Linked DNA regions of Homo sapiens: regions 2 and 3 are each linked to region 1. Evidence: fine-mapped expression QTL. A gene starts in region 1. Each other region holds a variant in brackets. All regions are shown on one strand. Distances are between the middles of the regions.

Region 1 (8,067 bases):
CTCGTTGAAATAATTTTGAGAAATATTGGAAGAGAGAGGAAATAGAAATGAATTAATGAATATGACAGAGTTCTAACAGAGTCTCAAATAAGCTGATGATAATTTTCACTCTAAGTCTCACTTTTGAGCAAGATGAAGAGTTAATATACTGGCATTACGGAACAGTCATTAAAAATATTCATGTAAACCACATAGAAACATGGAAAAACCTAAATCTTCAGTTCAGCTTGTGAGCAAAAAGAAAAAAGAAAGAAAGAATATGAGAAAACAAATGCTATCACCATATTCAAATGAGAACCACCATAAGAAAAATTATCAATTCTTTTATTGTTTACCAGACTATAATATTGATTTTAAAACTAATCAAAACTGATTCATCTAAACACAGTAATGCTTCCATAAAAAATATAAGAAATTCCAGCCAGACATGGCAGCTCATGCCTGTAATCCCAGCACTTTGGGAATCCAAGGTGGGAGGGTCACTTGAGGTCAGGAGTTTGAGACCAGCCTGGCCAACATGGTGAAACCCCCATTTCTACCAAAAAATACAAAAATTAGCTGGGTATGGTGGCGTGCGCCTGTAATCTCAGCTACTCCAGAGGCTGAGTGGTGAGAACTGCTTGAACGCAGGAGGTGGAGGTTGCAGTGAGCCAAGATCGCACCACTGCACGCCAGGCTGGGCAAGAGTGAGACCCTTTCACAAAAAAGTAAAATATATAAGAAATTCCTCTTCTAGGATTTTATAAAAGTTAAAACCTGTGGGAAATGGTCTTATTTTAGGTCACATTCAGCCCTATAGTTTCACCACATTACTGTATTTCAGGACTGTGATAAGCCCTGGGGGATAGAAATTAATTTAACAAATGCTTATAATCCAGCATGGGCCAGACATTATAAGTTTGTGGGGATGGCAGCATTGTTCAAGTCTCCACCCTGCTTTCCTTTTGAATGACTGGTCATCAACACTCTTATCATCACTCTCCTGAATACTATGCAATTTTTTCACTTTCCTTAAAAAACTAATTTGAAAGTCAGTGTCCTTCTGTCAACCCTTCTTTTTCACAAGTTAACTAACTTTTAAACCTCAGTACCATCTTAGATCCCTCCTTACTTTTTTCATTTACTTTTTTTGAAATGGGAGGCTCTCTATATTGCCCAGGTTGGACTTGAACTTCTGGGCTCAAGCAAATCTCCTGTTTCAGCCTCCCAAGTGACTGAGACTACAGGCTCAAGCCACAGCACCTGGCTCCCCTCCTCACTTTCTATCAGTTTCTAAATTCGGCATTTTTTTTTTTAACCACATTTCATCTCACATTTCTTCTAGGTCTCTATCTAAATTGAGGCTTTTATTTCACATCTGGATTATTCAATGAGAATGCCTGTTAAGACACAGAGTTGATACCTGGACCATCTCCTTTCAGCTCACTTCAATGTTTACTTGTAGCTGGTATGCACAGTTAACACACTGACAACTTCCCATCTCAACTACTTCTCTCCTCAGCTCTCCAGCACCTCAGGAGCTTGCCAAGCCCTACCTAACCAGTGTACCTGGGAAGTTCTGGGAGCCTTTTAGATAAAGGCAATCTTTATCAGTGAGGATTGACTGTAGATGGAAAACCACCCAGCTCCCCTTCATTTGGGGCAGTTATACAAAACTCTGAGGCAGTTATACAAAAATCTCCAAAGGCTTAAGCAGCCTCCAGTTGGCCTTCCACTATTAACCTTTTTTCCTCCTTCTCTGATTCTACCTGCTTCCTCACTTGTGCTTTATAGCATCTCACCTGCACCCATGTCATCTCAGGTCCAAGTTCAAGATGCACTTCAGAGAAACCATAAGGGCTACAAAAATAATGGTCACAATCTAGCTTAACATAAAGCCACCCCAGCAGTCTTCCAGTCTCAATCTTCTAACAGTTACAGCTCATTTTCCTTTCATGTGGATCACATACCTCTTCTGATCAAACACCTTCAGTGAAGTCTTTCATAATTTGTCTTCTTTATCTATTATTAACTTACATAAACTATGAATATCAGCCACATTGTTCTACCGATGTTTTCTCAAATGTAAGTTGTACCCTTCAAGGAGCTCATTAATCTGTTCACATTACAAATATCCTCCAATATTTACCTTTCAAAGCTCACTCATCTCAAATACTACCTTCACCAAGCCCCAATCACAAGTAATGTCTACCTCACCTAAATTCCTAAGGAACTTTTATAAAAACTCATAAGGCATTTACTGTTGTGTAAAAAATTGCCTCACTTGACTACAAGTTCTTTGAAGGCAGAAACCACGTTTCATTCTTTTTGTTTTCCAAAGGGCCTTGTCCTGGTAGACTCAAAATATTGACCTAACTTAACCTTCTGAACATTTGACAGCATGATTTATTTTGATATACATATTGTTTCTTAAAGACTAGTTCTCAGTATACAATATAGCACATAATTCATGTGCCTTTTTATAGATAGTTAAAAGCAACTGTACTCATCTCACACTCTTTGGAGTTTTCCCACTTATCAAAATGTTCCTGCAGACACATGTACACTTTTAAAGTTTAAAAACTACACTAAATAGAGCTGTTACTTATTCCCTTCCTTTTTAGAAATGGTTACATTTCACATTTCTCACCAAAAATCTTTCAGCATTTTATGTACTTCATTTTCTTGTGAAGAGTCCACAGTCTTGTCATATGTTATAGTTCACAGTGCTCCAATCTTAATCTATCTGAATTCCCAATCTGTATCAAAAGCTGCTTTGGCAACATTATTTCAGGCTTTACGAAATTCTGATCCTTACACAATCTTGAAATGTTTCTGTCATGGGGAAAGACTTTATTTCTTGGCATTCGGAGCTCAGAGGACTGGCATGAGGATCAAGTAAGACTGTGTAAGTGAAAGGTCACAGAAAATTCTAATACTACTACATAAATGTAAGAATTATCATCTCAATTCTGAATTTCAAATATTTAAAATCACCTATTTACTACAATCTAATGTCATTAAACTGCAGTTATATAAAAAGACTTGCTTACTGTTAAGTTATAAAAAGTTCAGAAAAGACAGAAAAAAAGTGAAACTGGCCATAAACCAGATCATAAATAGGAAGCAATCTTAAGTAGACTATCCCTCTTGCACATATCAGGTCAAATATTTTATTCCAATAATATTTTTTGTACTGTCCTTTTTTTTTTTTTTTTTTTTTTTGAGACAGAGTCTCGCTCTGCTGCCCAGGCTGGAGTGCAGTGGCATGATCTCGGCTCATTGCAAGCTCTGCCTCCCGGATTCACGCCATTCTCCTGCCTCAGCCTCCCAAGTAGCTGGGACTACAGGCACCTGCCACCATGCCCGGCTAATTTTTTGTAATTTTTAGTACAGACGGGGTTTCACCGTATTACCCAGGATGGTCTCGATCTCCTGACCTCGTGATCGTCGGCCTCCCAGAGTGCTGGGATTACAGGCGTGAGCCACCGTGCCCAGCCCTGACCTTTCTTTCAATCCTGCCAAAGTAATGAAATAATACAAAGCTCCTAGCATTGTGTAACTATTTCTATTATTTTTTCATAAAACTAGCATTGTCTTTAAGATTCCTATTTTCTCTCTTATTTATAATAGTATGAATTCACTAACAATATTTGTATTATGCTCAAATCAAATAGCCTATGACGATAATGTGACTTGGTCAGACCTTTCCAAATAAGACAGTAGGAAAAACGGAACTAGGACGGCCTTGTTACTTTTTGTAACACGTTTTTCTTAAAGGAAAAATAATCTGATTAAACTTAAAAATTCTCTACATCCACATAGTTATTAAGCAAAAGGCCTAGAGATCGTTACGGTAAAATTCACCTTCAATTTAAGTCTATGCTCCTGCCAGAATTTCACCCTCTGGCTCAATTTTCCAGGCCTAATACTGATTCTATGAGAATGTAAACTCCAACGGTACTTGAGTGCAAAACACCCAGGAAAATCTCATCGTCCAAGAGCTCAACGTAAAACCCTGTAAATATTCAAATGAAGAGCGTTTTGTATACGAGAAATATAAGTAAAGGTCTGGGAAACCACACACTATGGATCTTTCATCCAAACAAAGGCTGCAGATGGACAGAAGGTAAGGGGTAACCTCTCAGTCAAGATCAAACATTGGTCGAAGAAAAATTCCAGGGACGATGACACCTCGGTTTTTCCGTTCACAACAACAAACAACGGGGCCGGCCCCCTCAACAGCGCCGAAAAGCGAAACCAGAACCCAGGAGCCGGCGCGCTGCAGGGCTTTCAGTCACCCACTGAGAGGGACTGGCAAGCCTGAGTGGGGAGACCGAGGAAGGGAGCAGAGCCCCCGCTTCTCGGGCTCACCTGCACCTCCCGCTTCCAGGGAAGAACCCCTGAGGACCCTTCCTCAAATCAACGACCGGTTCCCATCCTCCACCGACCGTTGACAGGGCGACCACTAGATTATCTCTGCAACGCAGAGCACCGAGGGGCCAAGGCCTTCTTCCCGCCCGCGAACCCGCCGCCACCCAGGACCAAGAAAAAGAGGCTGCTGCAGCGGCCGCAACCCCAGCGCGCGGAAGCGAGAACAGAGACCGGACCCCGGACGCGAGCGAAACGCCCTTGGGCCCCGCGCCCCTCCCAGCAGCGCCGCGCTCACCTCCACGGCCTGGCCCGCGGGACCCGCCAGCTCGACCAACAACGGCCTGCAGCCGCACCTCCGCAAGCTCCTCTTTTCCTTCTCAGCTCTCGGAGAGGGGCAGTGTCGCGTCAGGAGGGCCGGAAAACGGCCCCGCAGCGCTGCCCTCGGGGGGTCCGCCTCCTGAACTGGCCACTTCCCGCAGCAGCCGCGGCTCCTTCCGGTGTCTCCGGGGCCGCCGCAGGCGTCTCCGGCGATAGGGGAGGTGGGGGCGGAGCCTCGATGGGAGCCCGCCCCAGGGGCGGGGCCACGGGAGCCAGGCCCAGGTGCGGGGACCCAGGCCGGCTCCCTACTCTGACTGCAAACTAACTGTACAGGGTATGTGCAGCAGTTTGAGGCTGTGAGCTTTTTTTTTTTCGTTTTTCACATGTTTTCTCCTTCTCTTTCACAGTCACACACTACGACCATTATAAGGTCTTGTCTCGATGCATTACAAAAACTGCATTAAGGCTGGCCACTGAAGGGCCTCAGGTTTCCAAACTTGAGCAAAGAAATATTAGACTTAACTTATCCCAATTCAACATTGTATTTCCTCCTTTCATCTTTCTTCCCCCAACTTCTTAGGACCTAGATTCTCTGAAAGCAATTATGTTTCCCTTTTCCACCTATGCAAAGAAGAAATTTATCTCACCATTTTCTCCTTAGGCTAAAATCAAGAGGATCAAATCAAATATTTATTGAAACCTTAGTATCTGCTTAATGCCTGGAGCATGGAAGGAGTCCTGCCTTCTAATTATGTAACTGTTAAAATGCACTCGATTGAGGTTCAAATCTATGAATAAAAAAGGTTATATTAATAAAAAATTGTTAAAATTGCCAGTTTCAATCTGTCTCATGACATCTGACTTTTTGGTCTCCAAAATGGGAGCATGTACCAAAGTATCATGCAAGATGCTCAGTCTCCATTGGAATAGGTAGAAAATATAAAAGCTTCTACTTATTTTTATGGTAAAAATGAAATAAATTAACCATGATACAAAATTCTAGGTAGGGATTGACACTCAGGCCTCAATTTGCACCACAAATGATTGCCTATCCTCGGTTCACTGAGGAGAATAGAAATTTCACAGAATAGAAGTTTCACAGGCAGGCGCCATGGTTCATGCCTGTAATCCCAGCACTTTGGGAGGCCGAGGCGGGTGAATCACTTGAGTTCGAGACTAGCCTGGGCAACATGGCGAAACCCCATTTCTACTAAAAATACAAAAATTCGCCAGGCATGGTGACAGGCACCTGTAGTCCCAGCTACTCAAGAGGCTAAGAGTGGAGGATCACTTGAGACCAGGAGTTTGAGGTTGCAGTGAGCCATGATTGTGCCACTGCACTTCAGCCTGGGTGACAAAGTGAGATATTCTCTGGGAAAAAAAAAAAAAGATGCCGTTAGGAGATGAAAAGTTGTCTCCAGCCGGGCACAGAGCCTCACACCTGTAATCCCAGCATTTTGGGAGGCCAAGGCGGGTGGATTACCTGAGGTCAGGAGTTCAAGACCAGCCTGACCAACATGGTGAAACCCCCATCTCTACGAAAAATACAAAAATTAGCCAGGTGTGGTGGCGCGTGCCTGTAATCCCAGCCACTCAGGAGGCTGAGGCAGGAGAATTACTTGAACCCAGGAGGCAGAGGTTGCAGTGAGCCAAGATAGAGCCACTGAACTCCAGCCTGGGCAACAGAGGAGGACCCTGTCTCAAAAAAAAAAAAAAAAAAAAAAAAAGCTGTCCACAGAGGAGATCTACAGAAGAAAAAAAAAGAAGAGAGACAGAGAGAGAAGAAAAGTTAGGCCAGCAAATAGAATTTATTTGAAATACATATAATTGAAAAGGGGCTCAACTCCATATGTATTTCCAGAAATCAATTTTTAAAAAAACAGGCGACCAAATAGAAAAATAGACAAAAGTCACTTCCCCAGAAATTCTTCTATTGAAAATGTATCAGGGGTATTCTGTTCTTACAGTGTCCTAGCAAATTCAATTCAGCCTCCAAGTCCCACCACCATCCTGCTTAGTAACCAAGGTTCTCTCTGGGCTTACCTGTCCTGGAGGAGTTCTAGGGCAGTGTCAATGCAAGGAAGACAACTGACAAGGCTGTTCAAGATCACCAGGTGCGGTGGCTCATGCCTGTAATCCCAGCACTTTGGGAGGCCCAGCAGGGCAGATCACCTGAGATCGGGAGTTTGAGACTAGTGCGTAGATAATAGTAGGCAAGTACTTCTCAGGTGGACACCAAGTGAAGTCCTTGCAGTGGACAAGTTCTCACAAAACAAACTCACTCTGATAGAATATAATGTAATACCTCTCCCACTTTTAACTTCCGTGAATTCCTGCCTCCCACCCTTGGGTGTTTATCCTTTCATCCCACAGTCCAGATTGCTTATCTTTTACTTTTCTTCAAACAATATCTCCTGATGGCTTATAATGGCTTATAAGGAAGAACACTATCATTAGGAAATAAATCAATCAACTTCCCCTTGAGAGAATAGATTATACATTCCAAAGTGTGGACACCCAGCTGAGTCACTGATTCTGGAGTAGAATTCTAGAGGGTGTGTGGACACCCAGCTGAGTCATACTGATTCTGGAACAGAATTCTAGAGGTGCCGTTCATGGAGAATATAATGTAAATAGTATGACTTAGAGTTGTGCATCAGGCCAGGTACTGAAGTCTCTTCTAATGAAAGGGAGAAAAAAGAAGAAATGAAGAGTAGGAAGAAAAAGAAGAAAAGAAGTCTCTTCTAATGAAAGGGAGAAAAAAGAAGAAATGAAGAGTAGGAAGAAAAAGAAGAAAAGAAGGAGAGATACAAACAGGGAGGGAGGAAGACAATTGAATGGTCCTATCAAAAACAAATACCTTCTCATTTTTGTAACTGAGTAATGGCAAGTAAAAAATAGCAACGTAGAAAATATACATTTTGGTGCTTATGTACCTGAGACTAAATAAAGCTTTGTAAATGCTGTTTCCTTAGAGACAATTTTACAGATACTCCCAACCTCTATCCTTCCTTCACCTGGCTAACTCCTACCTAGATATTCTCTGTTTAATACAGAACTCTTTACCCCATTATTTCCGGTTTCAGCATCCTGCTTGCTTCCTTTAGAGAATGTATTATAATTTGTAATTATCTTAAATTTTTTGGTATACTTAATTTTTTGCCTGTCTCTCCTGAACTCCTCAATGGGAGCAGTGAGTATTTATCTTATTCACAATATTCCCAGAGCCTAGCATTGAAGGACTCAAAAACTTGTTGGCACTCAACTGGGGGTGGTTTTGTCCCCTGAGTGGATAGTTGGCAATATTTCTGAAGAGGATTGGTGGGAGAAAGAATTAGTAACATTCCTTTGCATTGATATTACAAGAGAGTCCCAGACATCATTAATGCCACTATT
Region 2 (8,242 bases), 32 kb after region 1:
TCAGCAGCACCCCACTCTACTGGTACCAATTTACTGTATTAGTCCATTTTCATGCTGCTGATAAAGACATACCTGAGACTGGGCAATTTACAAAAGAAAGCTTTATTGGACTTACAGTTCCATGTAGCTGGGGAGGCCTCACAATCATGGCGGAAGGTGAAAGGCACGTCTCACATGGCAGCCGCAAGAGAGAGTGAGAGCCAAATGAAATGGGTTTCCCCTTATCAAACCATCAGATCTCGTGAGACTTATGCGCTGTCATGAGAACAGCAAGGGAAGGACTTGTCCCCATGATTCAATTACCTGCCACTGGGTCCCTCTCACAACACATGGGAATTCAAGATGAGATTTGGGTGGGGACACAGCCAAACCATATCAAAGGTAGTATATCCTTCTGGTTTTGATTTGTATTTCCCTGATGATGTTGAGCATCTTCTCATGTGCTTATTGACCATTTATATGTATCCTTTGAAGAAATGTATATTTTAGTCCTTTGCCCTTTTTTTTTTTTTTTGTAAGACAGAATCTCACTCTGTTGCATGGGCTGGAATGCAGTGGTGCAATCTCACTGCTCACTGCAGCCTCGGCCTCCTGGGTTCAAGCAATTCTCCCTGCCTTAGCCTCCTGAGTAGCTGAGATTACAGGCGCCTGCCACCATACCTGGCTAATTTTTGTATTTTTAATAGAGTCAGGGTTTTGCCATGCTGGCCAGGCTCGTCTGGAACTCCTGACCTCAGGTGATCTGCCCGCCTCCGCCTCCCAAAGTGTTGGGATTACAGGTGTGAGCCACTTGTGCCTGGCCCCTTTGCCCATTTTTGAAATTGTTTTGTTCTCGTGGAGTTTTAGTTCTCTGTATAGTCTGGATATTAATTCCTTGTTAGTTATATGATTTCCATATATTTCTCCAATTCTGTGAATTACTTTTCTTTTCTTTTTTTTTTTTTTTGAGATGGAGTCTCACTCTGTCACCCAAGCTGGAGTGTAGTGGTGCAGTCTTGGCTCACTGCAACCTCTGCCTCCTGGGTTCAAGCAATTCTCCTGCCTCAGCCTCCCGAGTAGCTGGTATTACAGGTGCCTGCCACCACACCTGGCTAATTTTTGTATTTTTTCTTTTTTTTAGACAGAGTCTCGCTTCTTCACCCAGGTTAGAGTGCAATGGCGCAATCTCGGCTCACTGCAACCTCCGCTCACTGCAACCTCCGCCTCCTGGGTTCAAGCAATTCTTCTGCCTCAGCTTCCCAAGTAGCTGGGATTATAGGCATGTGCCAGCATGCCTGGCTAATTTTTGTATTTTTAATAGAGATGGGGTTTCACCATGTTGGCCAGGCTGGTCTTGAACTCCTGACGTCAAGTGATCCGCCTGCCTTGGCCTCCCAAAGTGCTGGGATTATAGGCATGAGCCAGTGTACCTGGCCTAATTTTTGTATTTTTAGTAGAGACGGGGTTTCACTATGTTGGCTAGGCTGGTCTCGAACTCCTGACCTTAAGCGATCCACCCACCTTGGCCTCCAAAGTGCTGGGATTACAGGCATGAACCACGGTGCCCAACCCTGTGAATTACTTTTTTATTCTGTTGATGGTGTCTTTTGATGCACAAAATTTTAAAATTTTCATCAAGTCTTGTTTGTATCTTTTTTTTGTTGCCTGTGTCTTCATTGTCATATTTAAGAAGTCATTGCCAAATCCGATGTTGTGAAGCTTCTTAGGGTTTTAGGACTTATATTTAGGTCTTTGATCCATTTTGAGTTAATTTTTGTATGTATTATTAGGTAAGGGTCCAGTTTTCCCTATACCATTTGTTGAAAAAACTCTCCATTTCCGACTGAATGGTCTTGCACCCCTGTGGAAAATCATTTGATGATATATGTGAGGTTTTATTTCTGTGCCCTTGATGCCAGTACCTTACTGTTTTGATTACTGTCGCTTTATAGTGAGTTTTGAAATTAGGAAATGTGAGTCCTCCAGCTTTGTTCTTCTTTTTCAAGTTTATTTTGGCTATTCTAAGTCCCTTGAGATTCCGTATGACATTTAGGATGGGTTTTTCTATTTCTGCCAAAAAATCATTGGGATTTTGATAGAGACTGCATTGAATCTGTAGATTGCTTTGGGTAGTATTGACATCTTAACAATGTTAAGTCTTCTAATCTATGAACATGGGATGTGTTTCTGTTTATTCATGTTTTCTTTAATTTCTTTCAGCAACGTGTATATATATATATTTTTAAATTGTAGAAGTCTTTCACATCTTTGGTTAATTCCTAAGTATTGTATTCTTTTGGATAATAATCTAAATGGAATTGTGGGGGGCGGTTGCTTTTTTTTTTTTTTTTTTTTCTTTGAGACGAGGTCTTGCTTTGTTGCCCGGGCTGCAAATCCCGGCAGTAAGTCATGGCTCACTGCAGCTGAATCCTCCCAGGCTCAGGTGATCCTTCCACCTTAGCCTCCCAAGTAGCTTGTACTACAGGAGTGTACCAACACACCCAGCTAATTTTTTTTATTTTTTGTAGAGACAGGGTTTTACCATCTTGCCCAGGCTGGTCTCAAACTCCTGGATTCAAGCGATCCTCCCGTATTGGCCTCCCAAAGTGCTAGGATAATGGGTGTGAGCCACCGTGTTTGGCTTTCTCTCTCTTTCTCTTTTTTTAACCAGATTTTAAAATAACAAGATGGTTCTGTAGTATCCTTCACAGCCAATCAATGAAAGTTTTTTAAAAATCGTTTTGATCTTATGGATTTAATTGTATTTGATGTTTTAAACCATTGCATTTATTTATTCTTATTTATGCTCAAATGATCTCATATTTGGCCAGTGAGAGTCTATTCAGGTTGGTTCCTGAGTGCTCTTGATAAAACCCTCGTAATCCTTGCTATCTAGTATAAAATGGCACAGGCTTATCTTGTACTTTTCCTGCTCCATACCTAGAATCAACCACTTCTTCAAGGACCCCTTTAGTGTAAAATGATAAAGACAACAAACTAGGTACCATGAGTCAATTCAGATTACAGTGAATAGTTGTGAGAAGGAAAACAATCCAATTATAAAACCCTCCCAAAAGTTCTTTGGTTTGAATTATTCTGGATTAGAAACTAGGTTGGTACAGCTTATTTTTAAAAACTTTATTTTGAAATAATTATAGATTCATAGGAAGTTGCAAAAATTATACAGCAAGGCCCAGTGTACCTTTTATCCCATTTCCCCCAATGGTTACATTTTATATGACTATAGTACAATATCACAATCAAGAAATTGACAGTGACAATGTATGTATATAATTCTATGCCAAGCCATTTTATCATATGCATAGATTTATGTAACCACAGCCTCTATCAAGATCCAGAACTCTTCTATCACCTTAAAGATTTACCTCTTGCATCCTCTTTATAATCACACTCACACCTTTCTTTTTTTGTCTCTGTCCTCCAGGCTGGAGCACAGTGACGCAGTCTCAGCTCACTGCAAGCTCCGCCTCCCGGGTTCAAGTGATTCTCCTGCCTCAGTCTCCTGAGTAGCTGGGACTACAGGCTCCCGCCACCACACCCGGCTAATTTTTTGTATTTTTAGTAGAGACGGGGTTTCACCATGTTAGCCAGGATGGTCTTGATCTCCTCACCTCGTGATCTGCCCGCCTCGGCCTCCCAAAGTGCTGGGATTACAGGCATGAACCACTGCGCCCGGCCCCCACCTTTCTTTGCACCATTCCTTTTTTTTTTTTTTGAGACAGAGTTTTGCTCCTGTTGCCCAGGTAGGAGTGCAATGGTGCGATCTTGGCTCACTTGCAACCTCCACATCCCAGGTTCAAGCGATTCTCCTGCCTCAGCCCCATGAGTAGCTGAGATTACAGGTGCCCACCATCATGCCCGGCTAATCTTTTGTATTTTTAGTAGAGATGGGGTTTCACCATGTTGGCCAGGTTCGTCCCAAACTCCTGACCTCAAGTTATCCACCCGCCTCAGCCTCCCAAAGTGCTGGGATTACAGGTGTGAGCCACTGTGCCTGGCCCCTCGCACCATTCCTAATCCCTGGTGAACCCTAATCTGTTTTCCATCTATAGTTTTGTCATTTCAAGACTGCTATATAAGGCTGAGAACAGTGGTTTATTCCTGTAATCCCAGCACTTTGGCTGGCAGGAGGATTGCTTGAGACCAAGAGTTTGAGACCAGCCTAGGCAATATAGTGAGACCTTGTCACTACAAAAATAAAAATAAATATAAGCTGGGCATGGTGGTAGGTGCCTATAGTTCTAGCTGAGGAGGCTGAGAAGAGAGGATCACTTGAGCCCAGAATTTCAAGGATGTATTAAGCTCTGATTGCATTATTGCACTCCAGCCTGGCAACAGAGCAAGACCCTGTCTCTTAAAAAAAAAAAAAAAAAAAAAACAAAAAACTGCTATATAAATGGAGTCACACAGGCTGTTACCTTTTGAAATTGGCCTTTTTTCACTCAGCATAATGCCCTTGAGTTCCAGCAAAGCTGTTGAATGTATTACCAGTTTGTTCCTTTTTATTTTGTACTCCATGGTATGTATGGATGTACCACAATTTGTTAACCATTCATTTACTGAGGGTCATTTAATATTACAAAATAAACCTGCTTTAAACATTTGCTTGTAGGTGTTTGTGTGGACATGTTTTTATTTTTCTGGGATAAATGCTCAGAAGTAGATATTTAA[GTT/G]TTTTTTTTTTTTTTTTTTTTTAAACAGAGTCTTGCTCTGTCACCCAGACTGGAGTGCAGTGGTGTGATCTTGGCTCATTGCAACCTCAGTCTCCTGGGTTCAAGTGGTTCTTGTGCCTCAGCCTCCTGATTTGGTGGGATTACAGGCGCACACCACCATGCCTGGCTAATTTTTGTATTTTTAGTAGAGACAGGGTTTCACCATCTTGGCCAGGCTGGTCTTGAACTCCTGACCTCAAGTGATCTACCTGCCTCAGCCTCCCAAAGTGGTGGGATTACAGGCATGAGCCACTGCGCCTGGCCCAATACTTAGTTTTTAAAGAAATTACAAAATTAATTATTGGCTGTATCATTTTACATTACTACCATCAAAGTATGAGAAGTCTAGTTTTCCCATATTCTCACCAGCATTTGGTATTGTCACTTCAAAATAATTATTTTAGATGTTCTAATATAACTGAACAAAAGTCTGGCTGCTCACTGCTTGAGGACCAAAACATGAGAAAGAAAGAGTGGTGAAAGGAAAGCAACTTTATTGAAATGCTAGCAGTTGGGATAGGCTAGGCTTATGTCTCCAAAAGACCATTTCAAGTGTTAGGCTGAGGGAAGGGGTTTAAAAAGAGGAGACTTGGTATGGGAAACATAAGAGTAACACAGGATGCAGGTTCCTATGTGTTGTTCCAAGGACTATCTCGAATTATTGTCTGCCTGGAGTACAGGCTGGTGCCATTTTATTTGCTGCTGAGTTACAGATTATCAGTTTTGAGGTAATCTCCCTGTAGAGGAGAATTCATTCCACCGCTGGGTCTTTTTGCCTGGGTTGTTGTAGCCCCTGGAATTTCTTAACAAGCATGCAGTTAGGTAAGTGTGCATGGTGCAAGGGAGTGTCTGGTGGGAAAGAGAGGGGAGCAGAGTTCAAAGAAGATTTCAAGGCCATATTTTAAGACTTAGGACACAAAGTTTCTACAGTTTGTTTCAAGGTTACATCTTAAGACTAGAGAAAAAGGATAAAAAAAGTTTTAAAATGCATTTCAAAGCTGAAATACTCAGTTACACTAATAGTTTTGTACTGGTATCTCACTGTGGTCTTAATTTGCATTTCCCAATTGGCTAATGATGTTGAACATCTTCTTGGGTTTGTGTGTGTTTGCCATCTGTATATCATCTTCAATGAAATGAAATGTCTCTTCATGTCCTTTGCCCATTTTCTAAATTGGATTGTTTGCTTTTTTTTTTTTTTTTTTTGAGATGGAGTCTCACCCTTGTAGCCCAGGCTGGAGTGCAGTGGCGCGATCTCAGCTCACTGCAACCTCTGCCTCCCGGGTTCAAGTGATTCTCCTGTCTCAGCCTCCTGAATAGCTGAGATTACAGGCATGCAGCACTATGCCCGGCTAATTTTTTTGTATTTTTAGTAGAGACGGGGTTTTACCACGTTGGCCAGCCTGGTCTTGAACTCCTGACCTTAGGTGATCTGCCCGCCTCAGCCTCCCAAAGTACTGGGATTACAGGCATGAGCCACAGCACCCGGCCTGTTTTTTTTGTTTGTATGTTTTTTGTTTTTTAAAGACAGGGTCTCTCTGTTGCCCGGGCTGGAGTGCAGTGGTGTGATATCGGCTCATTGTAGCCTCAATCTTCTGGGCTCAAGCAATTCTCTCACTTTAGTCTCCTCATTAGCTGTGACGCAGGCATGCACCACCATGCCTGGCTAATTTTTGTATTTTTTGTAGAGACGGGGTCTCACCATGTTGCCCAGGCTGGTCTGGAACTCCTGAGCTCAAGCAGTCTGTCCGCTTTGGCCTCACAAAGTGCTGGGATTATAGGCATGAGCCATGGTGCCCAGCCTATTTGCTTTTTTTACTGTTGAATCCTGAGAGGTTTTTTTTGTTTGTTTGTTTGCTTGTTTGTTTTGTTTTGTTTTGAGAAAGGATTCCCTCTATCATCCAGACTGGAATGCAGTGGCACAATCTTGGCTCGCTGCAACCTCTGCCTCCCAGGCTCAAGTGATTCTCATGCCTCAGCCTCCTGAGTAGCTGGGACTACAGGCATGCGCCACCATGCCCAGCTAATTTTTTTTTTTTTTTGTATTTTTAATAGAGATGGGGTTTCACCATGTTGCCCAGGCTGGTCTACCTGACTTCAAGTGATCTGCCCACCTCAGCCTCCCAAAGTGCTGGGATTACAGGCGTGAACCACTGTGCCTGGCTGCTTTACTAAAATTTTATCTTTTTTTTTTTTTTTTTTTTTGAGACAGGGTCTCACTCTGTCGCCCAGGCTGGAGTGCAGTGGCGTGATCTCAGCTCACTGCAACCTCTACCTCCTGGGTTCAAGCAATTCTCGTGCTTCAGCCTCCCAAGTGGTTGGGATTACAGGTGAGCACCACCGCACCTGGCTAATTTTTTATTATTTTTTGTAGAGGTGGGGTTTCGCCATGTTGGCCAGGCTGGTCTCGAACTCCTGACCTCAAGTGATCTGCCCGCCTCAGCCTCCCAAAGTGTTGGGATTACAGCCATGAGCCACCGCGCCCGGCCTTAAACTTTTATTTTGAAAGAATTTTATTTACCAAAGAGTTGCAAAGATTGTACATAGAATTCTCGTGTATGCTTTGTATTAACATCTTAATATTAATGTCTGTTATAACTCTAATACAACTATCAAAACTAAGATTAACATTGTAATCTTAATTTTGTAAGTAATATTCTTAACTACACTATAGACTTTATTTAGGTTTTATTACTTTTTTCCACCTTATATCCTTCAGGATCTTATCTAGGTTCCCACATTGCATTTAGTTGTCAGGTTTCCTTAGTCTTCTCCAATCTGTGACAGTTCTTTCAGTTTTCCTTGGTTTATATGACCTGCTGCTTTTGAAATATATAGGATAGGTATTTTGCAGAATGTCCCTCAGTTGAGTGTGTCTTATGTTTTCTCAGGGTTGGATTCAAGTTATGCATTTTTGGCAAGATGTCACAATATCAGGGGATACATGATGATGTCTGTGTGCCTTGTTACTGGTGATAGTAGCTTTGATCACTGGTCAGGCATGGTGTCTCATTCCTATAATCCCAGCACTTTGGCATGACAAGGTGGGAGGATTACTTGAACACAGTGATGCATGTCTGTAGTCCCAGCTACTCTGGAGGCTAAAGTGGGAGGATCGCTTGAGCCCTGGAGTTTAAGGCTCTGGTGAGCTGTGATTGCACACTGCACGCTAGCCTGGGCAACAGAGCGAGACCCTGTCTTTTGAAAAAAGGCACACACACACACCCCTTGATCATTTAGTTAAGGATGTGTCTGCCACACTTTTCCACTTTTTCTCCTTTGTAAATAAGAAGTTTGGAGGTAGAGACTTTGACACTGTAAGATATCTTACTTTAGTACTTATTTCTTGATGCTGCCTTCAGGAGTTTTTTGTTTTTTTTTTAAGATGCACCCTTGCTCTGTTGCCCAGGCCGGAGTGCAGTGGCGTGATCTCGGCTCACTGCAATCTCCACCTCCCGGGTTCAAGCAATTCTCCTGTCTCAGCCACCCGAGTAGCTGGGACTACAGGCGCATGCCACCATGCCCAGCTA
Region 3 (8,242 bases), 100 kb before region 1:
AAAAATTACAAGAAATTTGAACTACAAACCTATATTCCTCATAAACATAGATGTAAAACTCCAAACAACTTTTTAACAAACCAAATATAATAATATTTTTAAAATAATACACCATGACCAAATGATGTTTATCCCCAAAATGTAAGACTGGCTTACATGTACATAAGGTTGGTTCAATGCAATTCACTCTATATTAACAGACTGAAAAAACAAAACCGAAAAGAAAAAATAGGAAATAAACATAACTGGCCCTTTTGACATCAGGCCTTACATATTGCCTTATGTTTGGTACCCACGCCTCTCCATAGATAGATGGATATCTTTTCCATCTCTATGAAGCTTACTCCTTTTTCTATGCTTATAACAGAATACCAGAAATTGGGTAATTTGTGGAAAATAAATTTCTTCCTTTCTTTCTTTTTAAATAGAGACAAGTTCTATGTTGCCCAAGCTGGTCTCGAACTCCTGTACTCAAGCAATCCTCCCACCTTTGCCTCCCAAAGTGCTGGGATTACAGGTATAAGCCACCACACCGAGCCAAGAAATTTATTTCTTACTGTTACAGGGGCTGAGAAGTCCAAAGTCAAGGAATTGTCTCTGGTGAGAGCCTTCTTGCTCATGAGGATTCTCTGAAGAGATTTGAGGTAGCACAGAGCATCACAAGGTGAGAAGGCTGAGCGTGCTAATGTGCTAGCTCAGGTCTCTCTTCTTCTTATAAAGCCACCAGTTCCCCTCCCATGATAACCCATTAATCCATTAACCAATTAACCCATTAATCCATTCATGAGGGCAGAGACTTCATGATCCAATCACGTCTTAAAGGTCCCACCTCTCAATAGTGCCACACTGGGGATTAAGTTTCAACATGAGTTTTGGATGGGACATTCAAACCATAGCATATGATAAGCCAATAAAAGAGTTAATATTTATATAATGTGATCAAGTAAAGGGTTTTTAAGATCAAAATTAATTTTCTTCTAGAATTACCTTTACTTTGATTGGGTTTAGTCAAGTTTAAGCCCCTTCAGCCATGTGAAGACACAGTGAGAAGATGGCCACTTATAAACCAGGAACTGGGCCGTTGCCAACACTTAATCTGCCCTTGGACTTTTCAACCTTCAGAACCATGAGAAATAAATGGCTGTTGTTTATTTGCTACCCAGTCTATGGTTTTCTGTTACAGCTGCCCAAACAGACTAAGACAATAGCTAATGAGACAGACAAACAGACAAGGCAGATAGATAAAACTCTCCTTCAGGTAGCAACAAATAAAGCTGAATTTGTCAGCAGTAGAGCAACAGAAGCAGAGCACTAATATGACATCATTTAAACGTACTGACTTAGCTCAGCCTGAACCAGACAAACACCCTGGACTTTTCAGTTCCAAAAAATCCCTTTGTTGATCTATGACTTAGAAGAAGAAATGAGATGAGAAGGCACCATATATCATTCTTAGGTCCAAACCAGCTTGTTAAATCCTGGAACAGACTAACTTGAAAATGATTATTGGACTAGCAAGACTGATTCATTTCAAGATACATTAGTTTAGCACACACAGTGTACTATGTACTTATCATTAAGACATAATCTCAGCTCTGGACAGCCATTCATCTTCAATGGACATTCATAAATGAAGCATAAATAATTCAGCAAGGCCTAGGTGAAATGCCTGATGTAAAGATCCATCTATATATTTAATTTTTACAAATGTTTCCCTTTCATCAACTTACAGTTTTCCTCACAACAATATATTTTATAGCTGCCTAACTGTATACTGCATTTTGAAAATGCTTACAAAAAATTTTAATTCTTGGCTTGCTTTAAATATTTTTTAAATTTGTCAGTTAAATTTAGGAAAAAAGTCAAAATTTCCATTAATTTTATTTAGTGATACTTATCCTTAAGGATGTTATTTAATGTCAATTTTTTTTAAGGCCAGTGACAGGTAATAAATAAATGACTACTTAATCCTCTCTAAAAGCCATGCTCCATCTGTCTTAAGAATTCTCAATGGTTTCTGTCAACACAACAATCAAAAAGACTAGGAAAAGTCTTAAAAGCAAATAAAATAATCTAAAGGAGACGGATCAAGGTAAAGATTCACAATGAGTTAGGATATTTTACCATTTCTCATGGGACAGAGTCCTCCCTGAAATATCTTTTGATATCAAAGTCAAGGTCTGAATATCAAAATATTGAGACCTTGAATCTTATCAGATATGCACCATTGCTCTAAATTCTTGAATTTGTACTGTCTTCAGAGGGCACAAAAATTTTTACCAGCATATTAACCAACCTCTAAGCTGGACTCTCCGTCACCTCTAAGAATCTACAGGACAGGTAAAGCAGTTCCCAAGCTAGTTTCAGTATTTCAAAATCCCTAAGTGCCATAACAGATCATATATAGTTGATTCTCATAAAGTTGCCATGAGCACTGAATTATCAAATACTCAATACAAGAGAAATTCAGAGTGAAGTTCCTGCTAGCCTCTGACTAAAACATTTTCAACAGCCTAACAACACATATCCTTGTTTTATCTGTACTTTTATTTAAAAACACTTTTATTTCTTTATTTATTTACTTACTTTTCGAGACAGTCTCACTTTGTCGTCCAGGCTGGAGTGCAGCGGTATGATCTCGGCTCACTGAAACCTCCGCCTCCCGGGTTCAAGTGATTCTCATGCCTCAGCCTCCTGAGTAGCTGGGATTACAGGTGTGCACCACCACGCCCAGCTAATTTTTTCTATTTTTAGTAGAGATGGGGTTTCACTGTGTTGGCCAGACTGGTTTCTAACTCCTGGCATCAAGTGATCCACCCACCTCGGCCTCCCAAAGTGCTAGGATTACAGGCGTGAGCCACCGCACCCAGCCTAAAAACACTTTTATATTGCTGATTCATAAACACGGAACTCACAGTCAACAGCACTATAACTTTTCATCACAGCCTTCTTGCACTTAGGAACACTATAGACAGCACTTTAGCACTACACTTAGGGGCAATTTTAAACAGTGAAACCACCTCTAAAAAAAAAAGTGGGAAAGATGTAGCACTAAGTAAATAGACAAGAGAGCTAGAACAAGGCAGCAGAGAGTCATTTTGTTTAACCTCATTTGGAAATGTGTACATCAAGCAACTCAAATTTCACCACTCTGAACATGTCCGCAAATGACTGCGAAAGTGCCAGACATATTGATTTGGGGGTTACAAATAAATTTTAGCCAGTAAATGAGTTCACAAACGTGGAATCCAAGAATAATGAGAACAGACTATAGTCATCCCTCAGTATACGTGGGGGGGATTGGTTCTAGGACCCCAAGTATAGGTATCCAATAAATAATTGTTAAATTATTTAACAAGCATATAGTATCCAATAAATGTTAAATGAATGGACAATTATACAAAATACAATAATTTAGACACATCCACAATATAAAGTACAAATATAGCTTACCCCATTTCAACAACCACTTAACATACTAGTGTAGGTCTGGGTGCGGTGGCTCATGCCTGTAATCCCAGCACTTTAGGAGGCCAAGGTGAGTGGATCACCTGAGGTCAGGAGTTTGAGACCAGTCTGGCCAACATGGCAAAACTCTGTCTCTACTAAAAATACAAAAATTAGCCAGGCTCAGTGGCACACACCTGTAATCCCAGCTACTAGGGAGGCTGAGGCAGGAGAATCGCTTGAATGCAGGAGGCAGAGGTTGCGGCGAGCTGAGATTACGCCACTGCATTCCAGCCTGGGCGACAGAGCGAGACTTTGTCT[CA/C]AAAAAAAAAAAAAAAAAAAAAAACACAACATACTAGTGTATTCTCTTCCATTCTTATTTCAATGTGAATTTTAAAAATCAGAATTCACACAACACACACTTAATTTGGCATCCTGGCATTTATTCCCCACTTAAGCCACATAATTAAGGGCTAAATTGTCTGGGATTTTTTTATTTTTTAGAGACAGGGTCTCACTCTGTCACCCAGGCTGGAATGCAATGGGGAGATCACTGTTCACTGCAGCCTTGATCTCCCGGGCTCAAACGAACCTCCCAGCTTAGCCTCCCAAGTAGCTGGGACCTATAGTCATAGGTGTGTACACTACCACATCCTGGCTTTTTTTTTTTTTCTTCTTCTTCTTTTTAGTAGAGACAAGGTCTCCCTATGTTGCCCAGGCTGATCTCCAACTCCTGGGCTCAAGCGATCCTCCCGCCTTGGCTTCCTAAAATGTTGGGATTACAGGCGTGAGCCACACCGCCCAGCCTAAAATTGTTAATGGCCATATAAAAACTGTATAAATAGTTTATAATTTGACCATTTCCATTCTGTTAGGACATTTAAGCTGCTTCTGATATTATACTATTTATTATTTAAAATGCTGTGATTAACATTCTTGTACACTCTATGTCTGCATTTGATTATTACCTTAAAACAGACTTATTGGGTCACAGCATATAAATGTTTCCATCCTTGAAGGACACTGTCAGGTGGCTTTTAAGATAAAGCTTCATTTGTTAAAAATTCTAAATGCATTTTTAAATGACTATGCAAGAAAGTTCATTAAAATATACTTCTTTGGGAGGCCGAGGCAGGCGGATCACCTGAGGTCAGGAGTTCGAGACCAGCCTGAACAACATGGAGAAACCCCGTCTCTACTAAAAATACAAAATTAGCCGGGCGTAGTGGCACATGCCTGTAATCCCAGCTACTAGGGAGGCTGAGTCAGGAGAACTGCTTGAACCTGGGAGGCGGAGGTTGCGGTGAGCCGAGATCATGCATATATATATAAAATATATATTTCTGAATCATACTTTACATAGAAGACTTAATAGGCTTTACTAATTTGCTATCACTCAATGTAGCTTTAAGTGTTTTAATATTACTAATGAAAGAAAAATGTTTAATTTAGTTTAATTCGATTTATTATCTCATTGAATTTTTCTAATATACTTAATCAATTTTTAAATTTAAAAAACCAGTTGATCCAGGTGTGGTAGCTCACTCCTGTAATCTCAGCACTTTGGGAGGCCAAGATGGGTGAATCACCTGAGGTCAGGAGCTCGAGACCAGCCTGGCCAACATGGTGAAACCCACCTGGCCAACATGGTAAAACCCCATCTCTATTAAAAATACAAAAATTAGCCAGGCGTGGGGGCACGTGCCTGTAATCCTACTCAGGAGGCTGAAGCAGGAGAATCACTTGAATCCGGGAGGTGGAGGTTGCAGTGAGCCGAGATCACGCCACGGCACTCCAGCAGCCTGGGTGACAAAGAGAGACTCCATCTCAAAAAAAAAAAAAAAGAAAAAGAAAGAAAGAAACCAGTTGAATCCTATGTTTTGATTACCCAAAAAAAAAAAAAAGTTCCTTTTAAAGTATTACTAGAGGAGTGAGGATTGGGGGAAGGCAGAGCTCAGTTGTTGTGGTTTTGTTTGTTTGTTTGTTTGTTTTTGAGTCAGGATCTCACTCTTGTCACCCAGGCTAGAGGGCAGTGGCAGGACAATAGCTCACTGCCACCTCAAATTCCTGGGCTCAAGCGATACTCCTGCTTTAGCCTCCCAAGTAGCTAGGACTACAGGGGCTTGCCACCACACCCAGCTATTTTTTAAATTTTTATAGAAACAGGGTCTCACTATGTTGCCCAGGCTGGAGTGGTACTCCTGGCCTCAAGTGATCCTCCAATCTCAACCTCCCAAAGAGCTGGGATTACAGGCATGAGCCACTGTGCCTGGCTGACATTTCATTTTCTAGCAGGTAAAGAAGAGTATGCCTCGTTAGTGAGAGGTAAGTTACTTCTCCCCTCCCCAATATTTTTTTTTATTGTGGTAAAATACACATAACATAAAATTTGTCATCTTAATCATTTTTAAGTGTATGGTTCAGTGTAATCCAATACATTCATAATGCAATCATCACTACCATCCATCTCCAAAACTCCATTTTGTAAAACTGAAACTCTACGCTCCTTAAACATTAACTCCGCATATCCCCCACCTCTAGCCTCTGGCAACTACCTTTCTACTTTCTGTTTCTATGATTTTAACTACTCTAAATACCTCATATATGTGGAAACATACAGTATCTTTTTGTGACTGGCTCATGTCACTTAACATAATGTCCTCAAGGTTCATCCATGTGGCAACATGTCAGAATCTCCTTCCTTTTTAGAGGTAAATAATATTCCCTATGCATATACCACATTTTGCTCATCCATTAATGGACACTTGGGTTGCTTTCACATTTTAACTATTGTGAACAGTGTGGCTATGAACACAGGTGTACAAATCTCTCTTCAAGACCCGGCCTTCAATCCTTTCAGGAATAACCCAGATATGGAATTGCAGAAGGCCACATTACTTCTATCCTATTATTTTAGGCCCCAACTCTCAGACTGCTTCTCTCTACACTTCATACTACCATCATGACCAAATTCAAGCTTTCTACCATTCTGGACTAATTTCTATTTCTTCCAATTATATACAGAAATAGTTGATCTAAAAAGAATCACACATTTATGAACACACAATAAACACAAACACGTATTTTTCATTTATAAATATTTTTCTAGGAAACTTCAAACCCAAATTCCTAATTTACTCTAAGTGCATTTGTTACCCTAATTTGCCATCATTAAATTGAGCTTTAATTGCTTTAACGCAAAAAAAAAAAAAAAAAAATCATTGAATGCCCTTTAGGAAAATCACTCAGAACACCATACAGTTAACAATGGTACAGAGGCCAGGCGCAGTGGCTCATGCCTGTAATCCCAGCACTATGGGAGGCTGAGGTGGGCAGATCATGAGGTCAGACCTCGAGACCAGTCTAGCCAACATAGTGAAACCCCGTCTCTACTAAAAAAACAAAAATTAGCCAGGCAGAGTGTCGGGTAACTGTAATACCTGCTACTTGGAAGGCTGAGGCAGGAGAATCGCTTGAGCCCAGGAGTCCGAGGCTGCAGTGAGCCAAGATCACGCCATTACACTCCAGCCTGGGCAACAAGAGCAAAACTCCAACCAAAACCAAAACAAAAACAAAAACAAAAACAATGGTACAGAAAAACCAAGTAAATTTCCAATGCAATGACTAAAAGGGCCCTCAGAAGTTATTTAGCCTAGAAAACATACCATACTGGCTTTTCTGACACTTAGCTGCCCTAATCACAGAGGAATGATTAAGGGCATTGCAGTTAGATACCTGGTAAAAAATTACAACCTCTCTGAGGAGAGATTAACTACTTTTCTCTTCCATGAAAGAAAAAGGCACACCAATCTTGAATAATTATCATTCCATATCAGATTATGGAATGTCTGGCATAAAGTGGGCACTCAAAATTGCTTTCTTTTTCCAAGTTAGAGGAGTCTCTTAAATCACAAGACACCCCCTTTTCATCTCTTGATTATAGTTTCAAATTGCTAACAAGGAATTTTTTTTGTTTTCCAGACGAGGTCTTGCTCTGTTGCCCAGGCTAGAGTGCAGTGACACGATCATAGCTCACTGCAACCTTGAACTCTTGGGCTCAAGCAATCCTCCCACCTAAATCTCCTGAGTAGCTAGGACTACAGGCACAAGCCATGATGCCTGGCTTTTTTTTTTTTTTTTACTTGGTTTTTCTGTACCATTGTTTTTGTTTCTGTTTTGGATGGAGTTTTGCTCTGTCGCCCAGGCTGGTACAGTGGCGTGATCTAGGCTCACTGCAACCTCTGCCTCCCAGGTTCAAGCGATTCTTATGCCTCAGCCTCCCAAGTAGCTGCGACTACAGGCACACACCACCACACCCGGCTAATTTTTGTACTGTTAGTAGAGACGGGGTCTCACCATATTGGCCAAGCTGGTCTCAAACTCCTGACCTCATGATCTGCCCACCTCAGCCTCTCAAAGTGCTGGGACTACAGGCATGAGCCACCGTACCCAGCCTGGCTTTTTTTTTGTAGAGACAAGTTCTCGCTATGTTGCCCAGACTGGTCTCAAACTCCTGGGCTCAAGGGATCCTCCTCCCCTGGCCTCCCAAAGTGCTGGGATTACAGGCATAAACCAATGCACCTCACCCAACAGGTATTTTTAAACATGAAGCAAAAAAACTTAAGATATCACAAATATGGAAGGGTGGGAAATTTGAACATACCCTGTAGTGACTAGAATTGGAAGTATCAGTGTACTCACCCTGAATCTAACCACAAGAAATTCAAACTGAGGGACACTAAATACCTGGCCTAATCTCTTAAAAAATGTCAAGAAATTTGAGGCCAGGCCGGAC

Which allele goes with the higher level. Alleles are on the strand shown, and positions count from the first base shown. SD is a standard deviation of normalised expression in the study named. Not every link is listed here.
For the expression in neutrophils of the gene that starts at base 4,858 in region 1, C is the high allele of the variant in region 3 and CA is the other (moderate effect, 0.65 SD a copy in BLUEPRINT).

What was found. PIP is the estimated chance that this variant, and not a neighbour inherited with it, causes the effect.
Region 2: its variant is fine-mapped to the expression of USP33 in whole blood (INTERVAL, PIP above 0.99).
Region 3: its variant is fine-mapped to the expression of USP33 in neutrophils (BLUEPRINT, PIP 0.91).

The regions. Positions count from the first base shown.
Region 1 is chr1:77,754,995-77,763,061 of GRCh38, forward strand. It overlaps USP33 (ubiquitin specific peptidase 33), which reads right to left and starts at 4,858. Exons shown (of 24, transcript NM_201624.3): 1 at 4,649-4,858. RefSeq lists an enhancer at 1,405-1,454 and a silencer at 4,768-5,047.
Region 2 is chr1:77,786,888-77,795,129 of GRCh38, forward strand. The region is part of intron 2 of MIGA1 (mitoguardin 1); the gene reads left to right. Among named protein-coding and RNA genes, the nearest start is that of MIGA1, 11 kb to the left of the region's middle. The variant GTT/G (reference allele first, on the strand shown) is at 4,672.
Region 3 is chr1:77,654,410-77,662,651 of GRCh38, forward strand. All of the region lies in intron 1 of ZZZ3 (zinc finger ZZ-type containing 3), which reads right to left. Among named protein-coding and RNA genes, the nearest start is that of ZZZ3, 24 kb to the right of the region's middle. RefSeq lists an enhancer at 7,695-8,194. The variant CA/C (reference allele first, on the strand shown) is at 3,769.